2 separate regions of the Homo sapiens genome follow, and region 1 is linked to region 2. Evidence: fine-mapped expression QTL. A gene starts in region 2. The other region holds a variant in brackets. All regions are shown on one strand. Distances are from middle to middle. Region 1 overlaps RNF10 (ring finger protein 10). Region 2 holds the start of COQ5 (coenzyme Q5, methyltransferase).

Region 1 (8,331 bases), 35 kb after region 2:
AGTCTCACTCTGTTGCCAGGCTGGAATGCAGTGGTGCAATCCCGGCTCACTGCAATCTCCGCCTCCCAGGTTCAAGAGATTCTCCTGCCTCAGCGTCCTGAGTAGCTGAGATTACAGGCACGCACCACCACACCTGGCTAGTTTTTGTATTTTTAGTAGAGACGGGGTTTCACCATGTTGGCCAGCATGGTCTCAATCTCTTGATCTTGTGATCCGCCTACCTCAGCCTCCCAAAGTGCTGGGATTACAGGTGTGAGCCACCGTACTCCGCCTGGTGTTATTTTTTTTTAATTTTATTTTTTGAGGCAGAGTTTTGCACTTGTTGCCCAGGCTGGAGTGCAATGGTGCGATCTTGGCTCACTGAAACCTCTGCCTCCTGGGTTCAAGCGATTTTCTTACTCCAGCCTCCCTAGTAGCTGGGATTATAGGCGCCCGTCACCACGCCCAGCTAATTTTTTGTATTTTTAATAGAAACAGGGTATCTCTATGTTGGCCAGGCTGGTTTCGAACTCCTAACTTCAGGTGATCCACCTGCCTCAGCCTCCCAAAGTGCTGAACGTGAGCCACCACACCCAGCTGGCTTGGTCTTAAACTTCTAAACTCAAGCAATCTTCCTGTCTTGGCCTCTCAAAGTACTGGGATTATAGGTGTGAGCCACTGCGCTGGTCCACCATTTCTTTATTCTTTATTGTTGGTTTTACTGGTTGGTTTGAGCTTTTCTTTTTCTGTGTGTGGTTTTTTTTGTTTTTTTTTTTTTTGAGACAGAGTTTCGCTTTTGTTGCCCAAGCTGGAATGCAGTGGCATGATCTTGGCTCACTGCGACCTCTGCCTCCTGGGTTCAAGCGATTCTCCTGCCTCAGCCTCCCAAGTAGCTGGGATTACAGGCATGCCCTACCAGGCCCGACTAACTTTTTTGTATCTTTAGTAGAGACGGGGTTTCACCATGTTGGTCAGGCTGGTCTCGAACTCTTGATCTCAAGTGATCCACCCGCCTTGACCTCCCAAAGTGCTGGGATTACAGGTGTGAGCCATGGTGCCTGGCTGGTTTGAGCTTTTCTGATATTACATACAATGCTGTAACAATAAACGCGTGACTAAAGTTTTGACTACATCTCTGGGTTTCTTAGATTTCTTATATCAAGAGCAGAGCTACAGACCTTATTTTAAGACCATTGTTAAATTATTTTCTAGGAAATCATGCTAAATTACCCCATTTTCACCCCAGAGAAAAGGCTGTATTTGAAAATTCCTATTTAGCTACACCATCGTGAGCTTTGAATGTTGCATTTCTTTGATCTTGCTGGCATTCTTATAGATGAACAGCACAGCCAGTACTCCAAGTTGCTGCTGGCCTCTAAGGAGCAGGTGCTGCACCGGGTAGTTCTGGAGGAGAAAGTAGCACTAGAGCAGCAGCTGGCAGAGGAGAAGCACACTCCCGAGTCCTGCTTTATTGAGGCAGCTATCCAGGAGCTCAAGGTGAGAGGATGCATTGGAGATGCTAAACCTTTTCACTTTCTCGGCGTTCTGTGGTGAAAACCAGAAATGCTAAACCTTTTCACTCTGTCGGGGGTGAGATGATGGACGCTGGGGATTAAGTTAGTTCCATTCCACATTTAAGACAATAAGCAGAGAATGGCTAAAAAAGCCAATTTGTTTTGGGCTTTGTTTGATGACAGTAGAGAAGGTTTAACCTAGGGCTTTTAAAGCTCTTTCTAGAGCTGAAAGGAGCAAGTCAAAATGATTTTATAACTAATTGTGACAGTGGAGTTTTTTAGATTAGCTATGTTCTTAAAGCAAGTTAGAGTTCTTTGTTTTCTGGGAAAATACTTAAGATTCTATTCTAGAGGTGTTTTGAAAGACATTGTGGAGAAAGTATTATGGCCTGCCCAGTATGCCTTAGGAGTACCTGAAACGGCAAGAATTACACAAGAACAGAATTCCCTGGGTCTTTTATCTTCCACAACAGAGATTCTTGAAGCATCACAACCACTGGTTGTTAGGTCCCACTTTGAGATATTGATTGCATAGGTTAAGCTCAGTAGGCTCAGTAATTTGCATATAACAAGTTCTAGGGTGATTCTGATGGCTGCTCATCCCCAGACCACACTCCTGGAACCACTGATCTAGCTTAGAGCAATAGAAGCCCATATTTATTGAGTGATCAGCATTTGATAGGACTTGTGCTATACACATTTATCTCACTTAAGCTTCTAGTGTGGTAGATAGAACTATCCCCTTTCATGGATGAGGAAACTGAATCCTGGGTTGGGTAATTTGCTAGTAAGGGATGCAGCTGGTATTTGAATTCCCTTCTCCCTGACTCCCAAGGGCTCCTTGGGTAGAGTCCTGTGTATTTAACTTTTGCTTTCTTTCTATAATACGTTGCAGCCGTATTTGTTCAAATGCCATTACAGGCATAAGAAAGGCTACATAGAATTAGAGCTGTCCAGGCTGAGGTGGAGTTAGCTAAATCCTTCCTACTACTCTGGACCTCTGTCTGAGCATAGTTTGTAAAAACTAGGTTAGTTTCATGTTCTTAGATTTCTGTTCTGGAAGTTTTTTGTATAGTGTTGTTTGTGTCAGATTCTCTTTTATTTTTTTTAACTTTTAAGTTCAGGGGTACAAATGCAGGTTGTTACATGGTAAACCTGTGTCATGGGGGTTTGTTATACAGATTTTCACCCAGGTATTAAGCTTAGTACCCATTGGTTATTTTTCCTGATCCCCTCCCTCCTCCCACTCTCCACCCTCTGATAGGCCTCAGTGTGTGTTCCCCTCTATGTGTCCATGTTTCATCATTTAGCTCCCACTTAGAAGTGAGAACATGTGTGCGATATTTGGTTTTTCTTTTTCTTTCTTTCTTTTTTTTTTTTTTTTTTTTGAGACAGAGTTTTGCTCTCGTTGCCCAGGCTGGAGTGCAGTGGCGTGATCTCGGCTCATCACAACCTCTGCCTCCAAGGTTCAAGTGATTCTCCTGCCTCAGCCTCCTGAGTAGCAGGAATTACAGGCATGCCCCACCATGCCTGGGTTATTTTGTATTTTTAGTAGAGATGGGGTTTCTCCATGTTGGTCAGGGTGGTCTTGAACTTCCAACCTCAGGTGATCCGCCCACCTCAGTCTCCCAAAGTGCTGGGATTACAGGCATGAGCCACCACACCTGGCCGTATGTGTCTTTACAGTAGAATGATTTATATTCCTTTGGCTATATACCCAGTAATGGGATTGCTGGGTGAAATTTTATTTCTGTCTTTAGGTCTTTGAGGAATCACCACACTGTCTTCCACAATGATTGAACTAATTTACACTCCCCAGTGTCAGATTCTAAGCAGATTCCAATCCTTAGTGGGTATTGCATGCTTTTTGCTTCCTGTTTCCCTCAAAGTTGAGATATTTAAGCACCTAATTCCTTCCCATTGGGTCTCATTGCCTTTTAACTTTTGGTCCTGTTGAGAGGCCATTCTAAGCCCTTGCCCTTCAAGCTAAGTGTGTGTCTGGAAACTTAACCTTCTCTGGTGTTCTCTCTGGCCACGTTAGACTCGGGAAGAGGCTCTGTCGGGATTGGCCGGAAGCAGAAGGGAGGTCACTGGTGTTGTGGCTGCTCTGGAACAACTGGTGCTGATGGCTCCCTTGGC[G/A]AAGGAGTCTGTTTTTCAACCCAGGAAGGTTAGTGTGTTCCTGTTACTAAGTGGCTGCCGTTCCTCAAATGCTGTCATTGAGCTGGTAGGCATTACTGTGAGATCTAAACCTTCTCAAGAGAAGAGGGGACAATGAGTATTTTCTGTATGCTTGTTATTAGTTCTTTCCCCAGGGGTGTTAAATCAGTGAACACGACAGCTAAGATAAACATCTAGGGAGCTTGGCTCTTAGGTCTGCATTTGCCACATTGCTTTCGGAAAGCAGGAGATATCCTTTCTGTTGACTTAGAGTTTGCTGCAACAGGGTGTGCTGGAGTATCTGTCTGCCTTCGATGAAGAAACCACGGAAGTTTGTTCTCTGGACACTCCTTCTAGACCTCTTGCTCTCCCTCTGGTAGAAGAGGAGGAAGCAGTGTCTGAACCAGAGCCTGAGGGGTTGCCAGAGGCCTGTGATGACTTGGAGTTAGCAGATGACAATCTTAAAGAGGGGACCATTTGCACTGAGTCCAGCCAGCAGGAACCCATCACCAAGTCAGGCTTCACACGCCTCAGCAGCTCTCCTTGTTACTACTTTTACCAAGGTGAGGGTGCCGGAAGAGAGGGCTGGGTTGCCGCAGAGGTGTTTCAGAGGTGACCCGGTGCTCTAAGCAGAGGAGCGCCACTAGATCCTGTGGCTTGGGTGGCTTGAGCCCTTGGGCATGGGGAGGGGTGGGGAGCCTCCTGGGGACTGGCCAAGACTGGTGTGTGATAGAGCCCCTTGTCCTCAGCGGAAGATGGACAGCATATGTTCCTGCACCCTGTGAATGTGCGCTGCCTCGTGCGGGAGTACGGCAGCCTGGAGAGGAGCCCCGAGAAGATCTCAGCAACTGTGGTGGAGATTGCTGGCTACTCCATGTCTGAGGTGAGGCCTTCCTGTAGAAATGGAGGGTCAGGCAGCAGTATTAACCTAATCTCTTTGAGGTAGGCCTAGCCATCCTAAGTTCACAAACCTTCAAGGCCTTTAGTTTTTGTATTTTTAGTCTTTCTGTCAGTGATGGTGCTGTGAATTCTTTGTAAGTGAAGTGTCCCCTCAGCATGCCAGGGTTCTGTTAAATCAGTTAATGCTGTTCCCTGCTTCTCTGGTTCATTGATTGTAGTTTGGGGATATAGATATTTCTTTTATTTAAGATGGAGTTTATTTTTGTTTCTTATCCTCCTTATTGCTTGGGAGAAATGTCACAAATTTGTTGTAAGATTTAAAATTAGACTCTTTGAGTACTATAAATTTTTCATCAAACATATGCAGAAAAAGAATAGAAATGAAAATAAATGGGCTGGATGTGGTAGCTCACACCTGTAATCCCAGCACTTTTGGGAGGCCTACTCAGGCAGATTGCTTGAGGCTAGGAGTTTCAGACCAGCCAGGGCATTTCTACAAAAAATACAAAAAAAAATTAGCTGGGTATGATGATGTGCACCTGTTGTCCCAGCTCCTCAGGAGGCTGAGGCAGAAGGATCACCTGAGCTGGGGAGATCAAGTCTGCAGTGAGCTGGCCTGGGCGGCAGAGCAAGACCATGTCTCAGAAAAAAAAAATTGGGCTTCATTTTCTACTATTTCAGGCCAAGTGTCTTTCAATAGGGAGATCTGCTTTATCTTCCTTCCCAGTTATTTATTCTGTCAGTGGTTCCCAGGTTTTTTTCTGTTCTGTTTTTCTGCCAACAAATAACTTTATCTTCTCTGTTCGTCCCCCTCAGCTGTGGGGCCTTGAAAAAATCAGAAACAGCTGATGGGCTTTAGATTATTTGTTGCTGGACTCAGTTCACTCCTTTGCAGTACAAACCAAAAATAACTGGATTTGGTTGCTTATTCCACCTTGCTGTAGGTTGACAGTTTCTCTTTGGCTTTTCAAAATGAGGATAATTGAGCACTACTGTTTCCAGCCCCAGTGCTGGCTGTGTTATGTATATATTGTTGGATATCGGGGTTAGGACCCCCTGCTTTCAGAGTTAGGCTTGCTTTTGTTGAGTATTGGTCCTTTTTCCAATGTAGGATGTTCGACAGCGTCACAGATATCTCTCTCACTTGCCACTCACCTGTGAGTTCAGCATCTGTGAACTGGCTTTGCAACCTCCTGTGGTCTCTAAGGAAACCCTAGAGATGTTCTCAGGTGAGAATGCCCCTGCTCTGCTTCTCTTTATAGTAGGGTTCAGGGATTCTTGTGGCTAGACACCCAGTGGGGGAGGAAACTTATGGAACTGTATCATGAGTCTTAGTACCTCCTAAACACTTCATCTGTTCATCTAGTCCAGCTGGGCCTACTGTTGTGGGTTTAGCTGCTAATACTGGGAGGAGGTAATGACCATGTTGTCCTGGGTCTACCTCTTTACAACCTGACCAATCTGCAGATGACATTGAGAAGAGGAAACGTCAGCGCCAAAAGAAGGCTCGGGAGGAACGCCGCCGAGAGCGCAGGATTGAGATAGAGGAGAACAAGAAACAGGGCAAGTGTAAGTTCAGGAACTTTCATCTTTGACTAGCACTGCTGTACGTCGTTGTATAGAACTCTGTGTCTGGGACCTGGGAGCCAGACCTTAGCCACTTGTTTTCTTCAACTTTTAAATGTGAATCATGAGAGCACCTCCTTAATAGGCTTGCTTGCAAATATAATGAGTTAATATGGGTCAAAGTGCCTAGCACATAGTAAGGATTAAGAGGAAATTCAGCCTTGGTAATAGTGGGTGATATACACCTGTTCCAGAGATGGGAATTGGGGCTTCGCTAAGAATGCTGGGGGCCATCGTTCCCCATGCTCTCTGGATCACTGACCTTACCTCTGACTCTTTATTAAAGGGACCAGCTATACACAGCAAGTCTGCCAGGTGGGTCTGATAAGATGGAAATTTTGATAGACTAGGAAATGCAGGAAGTTGGATTTAAGAGATCTTTCGTAGCAGTAAGCACAGCCTTTTGATCTGGTTCTCCAAAATAAGTTTCATTGAATCCAGGGGATTAGTGTGACCTGAGGTCCCATTATCCACTAGAACACAAGGAACTGAGTCCTTGGCCCAGAAAAGGACTTCGGTGTTTTGACTCCATATGGCATGGAAACATACATTTTATATCTCAAGTGGGACAAGTGTATACTTGGGGTCCCAACACCGTGTAGGTGTTTGGCACATGTCCTGAACTTTGAGAAAACTGATATTTCAGGAATAGGATTTTTTGTTTTCACCTTTTTATTATGGAAATATCAAGACAAGTAGAACAATGTAATTAACCTGCATGTTTGTTACCCAGCCTCAATTATGAATAGTTAGAACAAGGTTAACTATATTAAAGACATTATAGAAGGACAGTTATTGTAAATTTGGGTTTTAGCTTTTGTCTGCATCCTCTAGACCTTTGGGGGTACGCATGTGTGATGTCCTCAACTGTTGGAAACTATTTGAAAAATTCAGGCCAGGTGTGGTGGCTCACGTCTATAATCCCAACACTTTGGGAGGCCAAGGTGGGCAGATCACTTGAGCTCAGGAGTTCAAGACCAGGCTGGACAACATGGTGAAACCTCATCTCTTTAAAAATTCAAAAAATTAGCTAGGTGTGGTGGCACGTGCCTGTGGTCCCGGCTACTCGGGAGGCTGAGGTGGGAGGATCGCTTGAGCCTGGGAGGCAGAGGATGCAGTGAACAGAGATCGTACCACTACACTCCAGCCTGGGTGACAGAGTGAGACCCCATCTCAAAAAAAAAAAAAAAAAATTGAATTCTGTAAATGGGTTTACAAGGGTTATCTTTCCTTTGCAGACCCAGAAGTCCACATTCCCCTCGAGAATCTACAGCAGTTTCCTGCCTTCAATTCTTATACCTGCTCCTCTGATTCTGCTTTGGGTCCCACCAGCACCGAGGGCCATGGGGCCCTCTCCATTTCTCCTCTCAGCAGAAGTCCAGGTTCCCATGCAGGTAAACAGGTGAAATTTAATGAATTCACCCATCAGTTAGACCTTATGCAAAGCTTTGGTGTCTGAGTTTACAACCCCGGCCCACTCAGCATGGTGTGGACTTCAGGGGCATAACCTTACTTTGGTAGTCCTGAGGTACATCAAATTCTTTTATTCATCTTTCCCACTTGCTATACTGACTGCTTTACCCTGCCAGCTTCTAAGCACCTCAAGGAGCTCTTTAGGCAGGATAGTTGAAAATGGAGTCTTCCCTTTGACCCACCTATTTTTGTTTCTAGTTTTTGTTTGAGATACTCCCCTGTATGCCTAAACATCTTTGTACATGTCTCTTTATTGTAGCATCGTTTTAATAGCTCAAAAAAAAAAAACAGTTTAGAAAGCCTACCAATAAGAAAATGACTAAATTATAGTATTTATACTGTAAAATGTTTCACACCAGAAGGCCGGGCGTGGTGGCTTATGCCTGTAATCCCAGCACTTTGGGAGGCCAAGGCGGGTGGATCACGAGGTCAGGAATTCAAGACCAGCCTGACCAACACAGTGAAACCCTATCTCTACTGAAAATACAAAAATTAGCAGGGCATGGTGGCAGGCGCCTGTAGTCCCAGCTACTTGGGAGGCTGAGGCAACAGAATTGCTTGAACCTGGGAGGCGGAGGTCTCAGTGAGACAAGGTTGCGTCACTGCATTCCAGCCTGGGCGACAGAGCGAGACTTTGTCTCAAAAAAAAAAAAAAAAAATCACACCTGTTAAAGAAGGGAAT
Region 2 (8,329 bases):
CTTTGAGTTCCTCAGATGAAATGTGCTACACAGATTGAAAACATGACTCTCTTCTGCTGAATCAGACTACAGAGCCCGCCTTTAACTCAAACTTCAACGCCTATTCTCAACCTTCGGATTTCCAAGTGCGCTCTTTCCTTTTTTTTTTTTAAATTTTTTTTGGGACGGAGTCTTGCTCTGTCACCCAGGCTGGAGTGCAGTGGCGTGATCTTGGCTCACTGTAACCTCCGCCTCCCGGCAATTCTCCTGGCTCAGCCTCCCAAGTAGCTGGGACTACAGGCACGTGCCACCATGCCCAGCTAATCTGTTGTATTTTTAGTAGAGATGGGGTTTCACTGCTAGCCAGGATAGTCTCGATCTCCTAACCTCAGATCTGCCCGCCTTGGCTTCCCAAAGTGTTAGGATCACAGGTGTGAGCCACCGTGCCCGGACTTTTGTTTTTGAGACGGCGTCTAGCTCTGTCGCCCAGGCTGGGGTACAGTGGCGCAATCTCGGCTCACTGCAACCTCCTCCTTCTAGGTTCAAGTGATTCTCCTGCCTCAGCCTCCCGAATAGCTACGATTACAGGCACTTGCCACCATGCCTGGCTAATTTTTGTATTTTTAGTAGAGATGGGGTTTCACCATGTTGGCCAGCTGGTCTCAAACTCCTGACCTCATGATCTGCCCACCTCAGCCTCCCAAAGTACTGGGATTACAGGCGTGAGCCACCACGCCCAGCCTGCTCTTTTGAGCATCTTTTGGGGTGTCTGGGGGACACTAAGGCTAACCCCACTCGGTATAAATAGTCCTCCTTGCTGGCATGGTGGCACACACCTGGAGTGCCAGCTACTCGGGGGGCTAATGGGAGAGGACTGCTTGAACCCAGGAGTTCAAGGCTGCAGTGTGCTATGATTGTGCCTGTGAATAGACATTGTACCCCAGCCTGGGCAGCATAGTGAGAACTTGTCTCAAAAATAAATAAACAAGGCTGGGCGCAGTGGCTCATGCCTATAATCCCAGAACTTTGGGAGGCTGAGGCGGGGGGATCACGAGGTCCAGAGATCGAGACCATCCTAGCTAACACAGTGAAACTCCATCTCTACTAAAAATACAAAAAAACTAGCTGGGCGTGGTGGTGGGCGCCTGTAGTCCCAGCTACTCGGGAGGCTGAGGCAGGAGAATGGCATGAACCTGGGAGGCGGAGCTTACAGTGAGCTGAGATCGTGCCACCGCACTCCAGCCTGGGCGACAGAGCGAGACTCCATCTCCAAAAAAATAAATATAAATAAATAAATAAATAAGCAAATAGTCCTGGCTTTGCATGTTCCAATATGCATGAATTTCAGTTACTGTGGTTTAGCTAAACAACACCAGTCACCCAATACCACAATTCAAGTACAATGGTATATTAAATATGAGTAATTACATAAAATACATTCTTTAGCCTACAAATCACTATGTAAATAACAGATACACAACATGTTCAGCAACCAATCACGCACTTCTTTCCCAGACTTTAGGTGACTGGTCACTGCATCAGTTACTCAGTTCACAGACAGTAAAGCATGTACTTGTATTGCCTCTTTATCTTTCAGTGATAAAGCACACGTGGCATAACTGGATAAATGAAAGAGGGAATTGAGCAACAAAAATGAAAATGCTGATAATGCTGGAAGTGAAATTCAAATTGAGTGTCAGTGGAGTTATAGGAGAAATAGATGACTGTGGGAATATTGACACTGCTGCCACTGGAGAGACTCTAGACATACAGCCAGAGGAACTGCAGGAAGATGAACTTACCAACATGAACAAGAAATGGAGCTGTGACAAAAAGGTTGAAGATGTCCCAGAAGAAGTGATGCCAGCAAAAACTTTCACATTAAAGGAGTTCTTGGAGGTATTTCATAACATTGAAAGCACAAAGGATAAAATATCAGAAGTAGATAAAAACTTAGAAAGAAATATGGCAATTTGCCAAGGCATAGAAAAGATATTTCATACGACAAGAAGGTGGCAAATAGTGCTCAAACTACTCTTGGCAATTTTTTTTTTTTTTTTTTTTTTTTTTTTTTTTTTGAGACAGAGTCTTGCTCTGTCGCCCAGGCTGGAGTGTAGTGGCAGGATCTCGGCTCACTGCAAGCTCCTCCTCCCGGGTTCATGCCATTCTCCTGCCTCAGCCTCCGGAGTAGCTGGGACTACAGGCGCCCGCCACCATGCCCGGCTAATTTTTTTGTATTTTTAGTAGAGACGGAGTTTCACCGTGTTAGCCAGGATGGTCTCAATCTCCTGACCTCATGATCCACCCGCCTCGGCCTCTCAAAGTGCTGGGATTACAGGCGTGAGCCACTGCGCCCAGCCTACTCTTGGCAATTTTTTTACAAGGAAATAAAAGAATTTAATTCTCAAGGTTTCTAATTTTTTATTAGAATTTTTTTTCTTTGTTTTTGAGACAGTCTCACTGTGTCGCCCAGGCTAGAGTGCAGTGGCACAATCTCAGATCACTGCAACGTCCACCTCCCAGGTTCAAGAAATTTGCCTGCCTCAGCCTCCTAATTAGCTGTGATTACAGGCGTGCGTCACCATGCTTGGCTAATTTTTTTTGTATTTTTAGTAGAGATGAGGTTTCACCACGTTGGCCAGGCTGGTCTCGAACTCCTGACTTCAAGTGCCTACCTCGGCCTCCCAAAGTGCTGGGATTACAGGTGTGAACCATCGCACCTGGCTGTAAATAAATATCAACTTCAGTATATATTTTTTCATTTCACTATACATTTATAACTGACAGGGTTTTTGATGGTTGATAATTTTTAAAGGTCATAAAACAATTCTAATTTTTCCCATTGATTAAGGTCATTGTGTATGACTTCAGCTTGCACATTTTCACAGTCTTGCATTACTGTGCACAGCGAGGACTGTCTGTACTGCAATCTCAGTCCCCAATCTGGAATTCATATTTAGTTCAGTAGTTAACTTCTTCCTTGCTTGCCACTGTGTGAAATGTTGATTATACATTGATTATACATTGTAAAATGTTGATTATACATTGGCCGGTGTGGTGGCTCATGCCTGTAATCCCAGCACTTTGGGAGGCCGAGGCAGGTGGATCACGAGGTCAGGAGATCCAGACCATCCTGGCTAACATGGTGAAACCCTGTCTGTACTAAAAAAAAAATACAAAAAATTAGCCGGGCATGGTGGCGGGCCCCTGTAGTCCCAGCTACTCGGGAGGCTGAGGCAGGAGAATGGCGTGAAGCCAGGAGGCGGAGCTTGCAGTGAGCCGAGATCGCGCCACTGCCTTCCAGCCTGGGGGTGACAGAGAGAGACTCAGTCTCAAAAAAAAAAAAAAAAAAAAAAAAAAAAAAAAAAGAAACCCCGTCTCTACTGAAAATACAAAAATTAGCAGGGCACAGTGGCAGATGCCTGTAATCCCAGCTACTCAGGAGGCTGAGGCAGGAGGATCGCTTGAACCTAGGAGGCTGAGGTTGCAGTGAGCCCATATTGCGCCATTGCACTCCAGCCTGGGCAACAAGAGCGAAACTCCGTCTCAAAATAAATAAATAAATAAATAAATAAATAAAAACAACCAAAAAAACCCCTATTTTTCTCTAGAGGTAAAGAACGGGGGCTTCAGACTCAGATTAAACTGGGTTTGAATACTGGTTCCGCCACTTACTGATATGTTCAACTGGGCAACTTCTTGCTTAACCTTTAAGTCTCAATTTCCTCACGTGTAATATGGTAATAACAATACCCACTACTGGAATGTTGAAAATGAGAATTGAAAATAATGTCTGTACGTTGCCTGGCACATCACAAACGCTCAGTTGATGGGATTTAGTCATCAGTATTCTGCTTTTAAAAAGGGGGCGTCTGGCTGGGCGCGGTGGCTCACGCCTGTAATCCCAGCACTTTGGGAGGCCGAGGCAGGCGAATCACCTGAGGTCAGGAGTTCGAGACCAGCCTGGTGAAACCCCATCTCTAGTAAGAATACAAAAAAGTTAGCCGGGCGTGCTGGCGGGCGCCTGTAATCCCAGCTACTCGGGAAGCTGAGGCAGGAGAATCGCTTGAACCCGGGAGGCGGAGGTTGCAGTGAGCCAAGATCGGACCATTGCACTCCAGTGTGGGCAACAAGAGCGAAATTCTGTCTCCAAAAAAAAAAAAAATCATAACTGCACAGACAACAACACTGGAACTAATTGGATGTTAAATCAACCCTAACTGGCCAGAAGAAACCAGACCATGGACGGTCAGATCCCTCCCATCCGCCCTCTCGCCCCTTTCACCTTTGCCCCCCTTCTCCTCTTCCGACACAGTCTCAAACCCAAAGTGCGTTTCCGCTGCCCGCTTCTCTTGGGACAAGAGCCGAGCACTTAGTAGGTCCCCGGGCCAAGAGCTACGAAGCCCGAGGAGCTGGCAGCCCCGCATCGCCCGCGACCACCCACGGCCGCAATAGCTCCATAGAGCACAGCTCCCGGGGGCCGCCATCTTGGTAGTCGAGTGACAACGGCCAGAGAGTACGCCTTGTTGCGTCACTCCACGAACGACGGCGGCTGGCCGGCAACATTATTAGCCGAACGCGCCCTGAAATCTGATACACAGTTGTGCCGGCATTATCTCTAGGATCCAAAGGGTGGTCTCTAAGTATCGGAAATCCCTTCCTCTCTCTCTTCTCAAATTGAATTTACAATTCACCAGGAATCAGGGGATCTCAGGGGAGCCCCGGGTCACCTCTTAGCGGCCATGTCTCTGAATCCGGCTAGGCAGAAAAGTACTAACTCGCAAGATATCCAGGAACTCTTGTTGTCTTGTGCAGAAGGGGGAAATTGAGGCATGGTGTGGTTAAAAAGCCAAGATCACGGGCCAATTCCTGCACACTTTGTTGAGCGTAAGAATCACTTGGTTTACGTTTTAAAATGAAGATTCCTGGGTCCCCAACTACCAGAGATTTTGATCTGACCTATATCCCTTTAATCTCTATTTAAACAAATTTCTCTGGCGATTCTGATGCTAAAGATGCAGACCATTCTTGAGAAACATATGTTACACTACTCTGAAAAATAAACATAGGACAGACTTCTTTGTTCTGTCCGTTTTATGAACCTAGGAAGCTCATAAATGGGAACGAAAGCTCTGGTATCCACTTAGCAAGCCAGAACCACCACTCACACTTGGTCTCCTGCTGACACAAAGCTACATTCCTAGCTCCAGGTGGCATGTCATGGGTGTTTTACTTCAGCCCCAGATTTTCAGTCTTTTTTTAATGGCAAGGGTAATGCAGACCGTCTTGTGCAAAATAAAGAACGGACGTTGTTGAGTTTTGCTTGGATTACTGTATGTTTCTGCTTTCATTCCATTTTAAATGTATGTTTCCTGTAAATATTTCACGAGGAGAAAGCGCCAATAGAAGAAACTGTTTTGAAATGAAAATTCTCTTCCTGGTTTAATATAGCCTGACAGATGGACACCTAACCGCTTTCGTTTGGGAAGTACTGCGCTGGGATTTCTGTTTCTTTCTCTTTTATTTTAAGAATGATAGAAGGTCCTCGTTGGTATAGTGATGAGAAAAAAAAAAGGAAGGATACAAGGGCGAAATGATTCATCCATGTATTCATAATTCTCATGTCTTTGTTAAAAGAAATTAAGTGGCTGGGTGCGGTGGCTCACGCCTGTAATCCCAACACTTTGGGAGCCCGAGGTGGGCGGATTGCATGAGGTCAGGAGTTCGAGACCAGCATGGCTAACATGGTGAAACCCCGTCTCTACTAAAATACAAAAATCAGCCAGGCATGGTGGTGCACACCTGTAGTCCCAGCTATTCAGGAGGTTGAAGCAGGAGAATCCCTTCAACCCAGGAGTCACTGGTTGCAGTGAGCTGAGATTGCACCACTGCACTCAAGCCTGGGTGACAGAGCCAGACTCCATCTCAAAAATAAATAAATAAATAAATAAATAAATAAATAAAGTCTCATCAAAGAATCTTATATCTTCCATATCTAGTTATATAAAAGAATGGATCTCAGGATTTAGGGCTGTTCCTTCTGCACATCAGATTAAGTATCCAGACCAACAGTATTTCACTGTTCTCTTATTTCATATGATATGTGGAGGAAAACCTGTAAAAAGTGAAGTAGGACAAGGACTGTTGGAAGGTATTTTTTTTTTGAGGTAGCGTCTTGCTCTGTTGCCCAGACTGGAGTGCAGTGGCATGACTTCGGCTCACTGCAACCTCTGTCTTCTGGGTTCAAGTGATCCTCCTGCCTCAGCTTCCCTAGTAGCTGGGATTACAGGCATGCGCCACCATGCCAGGCTAATTTTTGTATTTTTAGTAGAGATGGGGTTTCGCTATATTGGCCAGGCTGGTCTTGAACTCCTGACTTCAGGTAATCCACCTGCCTCAGCCTCCCAAAGTGCTGAGCCACCACTCCCGGCGCTAATTTTTGTATTTTTAGTAGAGATGGGGTTTCACCATTTTGGCTAGGCTGGTCTTATTTACTTATTTATTGATTCATTCTTTATTTTGAAATAGGATCTCACTTTGTCACCCAGGGTGGAGTGCAGTGGCACAATCATAGCTCACTTCTCACCCTCCCAGGCTCAAGCCATCCTCCCACCTCAACCTCCTGAGTAGCTGGGACTACAGGTGTGCACCACCACACTGGGCTGATTTTTGCATTTTTTGTTGAGACAGGGTTTTGCCATGTTGCCCTGAATGGTCTTGAACTCCTGGGCTTGGGCAATCTGCCTACCTCAATCTCCCAAAGTGCTGGGATTATAGGCGTGAGCAACCGCACCTGGCCCTGGTCATTTCCTTAATAGCATGTCTATGTGATCTTTTGAATCTCAAACTACTATGGTTGGAAGGGAATCATTTGTAATTTTCCAAAGTACAAATAGGTGTGGTATGATTCCCAAAGTCTTAGCGTCTATATCTGTAAACCATATGTTTTTGTTTTTTGTTTTTTAATTTTTAGTAGAGAATTGGTTTCACTATGTTCAGGCTGGTCTCAAACTCCTAACATCAAGTGATCTTCCTGCCTCAGCCTCCCAGAATGTTGGGATTGAGCTACCTTGCCTGGCCACATACATGATTTTCCTTTTTTTTTCTTTTTTTTTTTTTTTGAGACAGAGTCTCGCTCTGTCACCCAGGCTGGAGTGCAGTGGCCCAATCTCAGCTCACTGCAACCTCCGCCTCCCAGGTTCAAGCGATTGTCCTCCCTCAACCTCCCAAGTAGCTGGGACTACAGGTGTGCGCCACCACGCCCGGCTAATTGTTGTATTTTTAGGAGAGACGGGGTTTCACTGTATTGGTCAGGCTGGTCTCGAAATCCTGACCTCGTGATCTGCCCGCCTCGAACTCCCAAAAAGTGCTGGGATTACAGGCCTCCCAAAAAGTGCTGGGATTACAGGCCTCCCAAAAAGTGCTGGGATTACATTGCACCTGACCCACATACATTATTTTCTTTCTTCTTTTTTTTTTTGAGATGGAGTCTCGCTCTGTTGCCCAGGCTGGAATACAGTGGTGCAGTCTTGGCTCACTGCAACCTGTGCCTTCTGGGTTCAAGTGATTCTCCTGCCTCAGCCTCCTCAGTAGCTGAGATTACAGGTGCGCACCACCACGCCTGGCTAATTTTTTTGTATTTTTAGTAGAGACGGGGTTTCACTATGTTGGTCAGGCTGGTCTCGATCTCCTGACCTGTTGATCCACCCGGCTTGGCCTCCCAAAGTGCTGGGGTTACAGGTGTGAGCCACCGTGCCCGGCCCCATATGCATGATTTTCTAAATCTCAGTCTGTATCTGTAAAATGAGGAACTGCTTGTCTCATAGGTAAGAACATCACTTGTTAGCTATGTGATAATAGGCAAATTATCTGGACTTTTGGAGTCCATTTACTCATCTTTAAATTTTATTTATTTAGGGACAGAGTCTTGTTGTGTTACCCAGGCTGGATTCATACTCTTGGGCTCAAGTGATCATCCCTCCTCAGCCTCCTGAGTAGCTGGGACTACAGGCACACTTAGTCTAAAATTTAGTTATTGAGAAGATTAAATGTGATAATGTTAACAGCTGTTAAATACAATTTATAGGAGCCCATTGTTTTGCACTGAGCTTCAGCACAGTAGACCAAACCAAAACAGAGTTACTCAAGGTGAATTTCTACCCAACCACGCCTAAACGAAATTGTTTATCTGACCTTCTGAGAAATCATCAAATCCCCAAACTGGTCAGTTTTACCCCACATAAGGAAGTCCATTCTGCTTAAACCTTTACAAGAAAAGTAATTTTGAAATGACTAATCTGCTTTTTGTTCTCTGTTTCTACTTTTTAAAAAAAAGTTTAGACAGGGTCTC

The links. PIP is the estimated chance that this variant, and not a neighbour inherited with it, causes the effect.
Region 1: its variant is fine-mapped to the expression of COQ5 in whole blood (INTERVAL, PIP 0.96).

Annotation. Positions count from the first base shown.
Region 1 is chr12:120,559,411-120,567,741 of GRCh38, forward strand. RNF10 (ring finger protein 10) reads left to right here. Exons shown (of 17, transcript NM_014868.5): 7 at 1,316-1,476; 8 at 3,535-3,660; 9 at 3,937-4,213; 10 at 4,400-4,533; 11 at 5,662-5,779; 12 at 6,018-6,119; 13 at 7,415-7,570. Among named protein-coding and RNA genes, the nearest start is that of POP5, 18 kb to the right of the region's middle. The variant G/A (reference allele first, on the strand shown) is at 3,633.
Region 2 is chr12:120,524,676-120,533,004 of GRCh38, forward strand. COQ5 (coenzyme Q5, methyltransferase) reads right to left here and starts at 4,483. Exons shown (of 7, transcript NM_032314.4): 1 at 4,265-4,483. The coding sequence starts at 4,466. RefSeq lists enhancers at 3,473-4,243, 4,244-5,013, 4,360-4,819.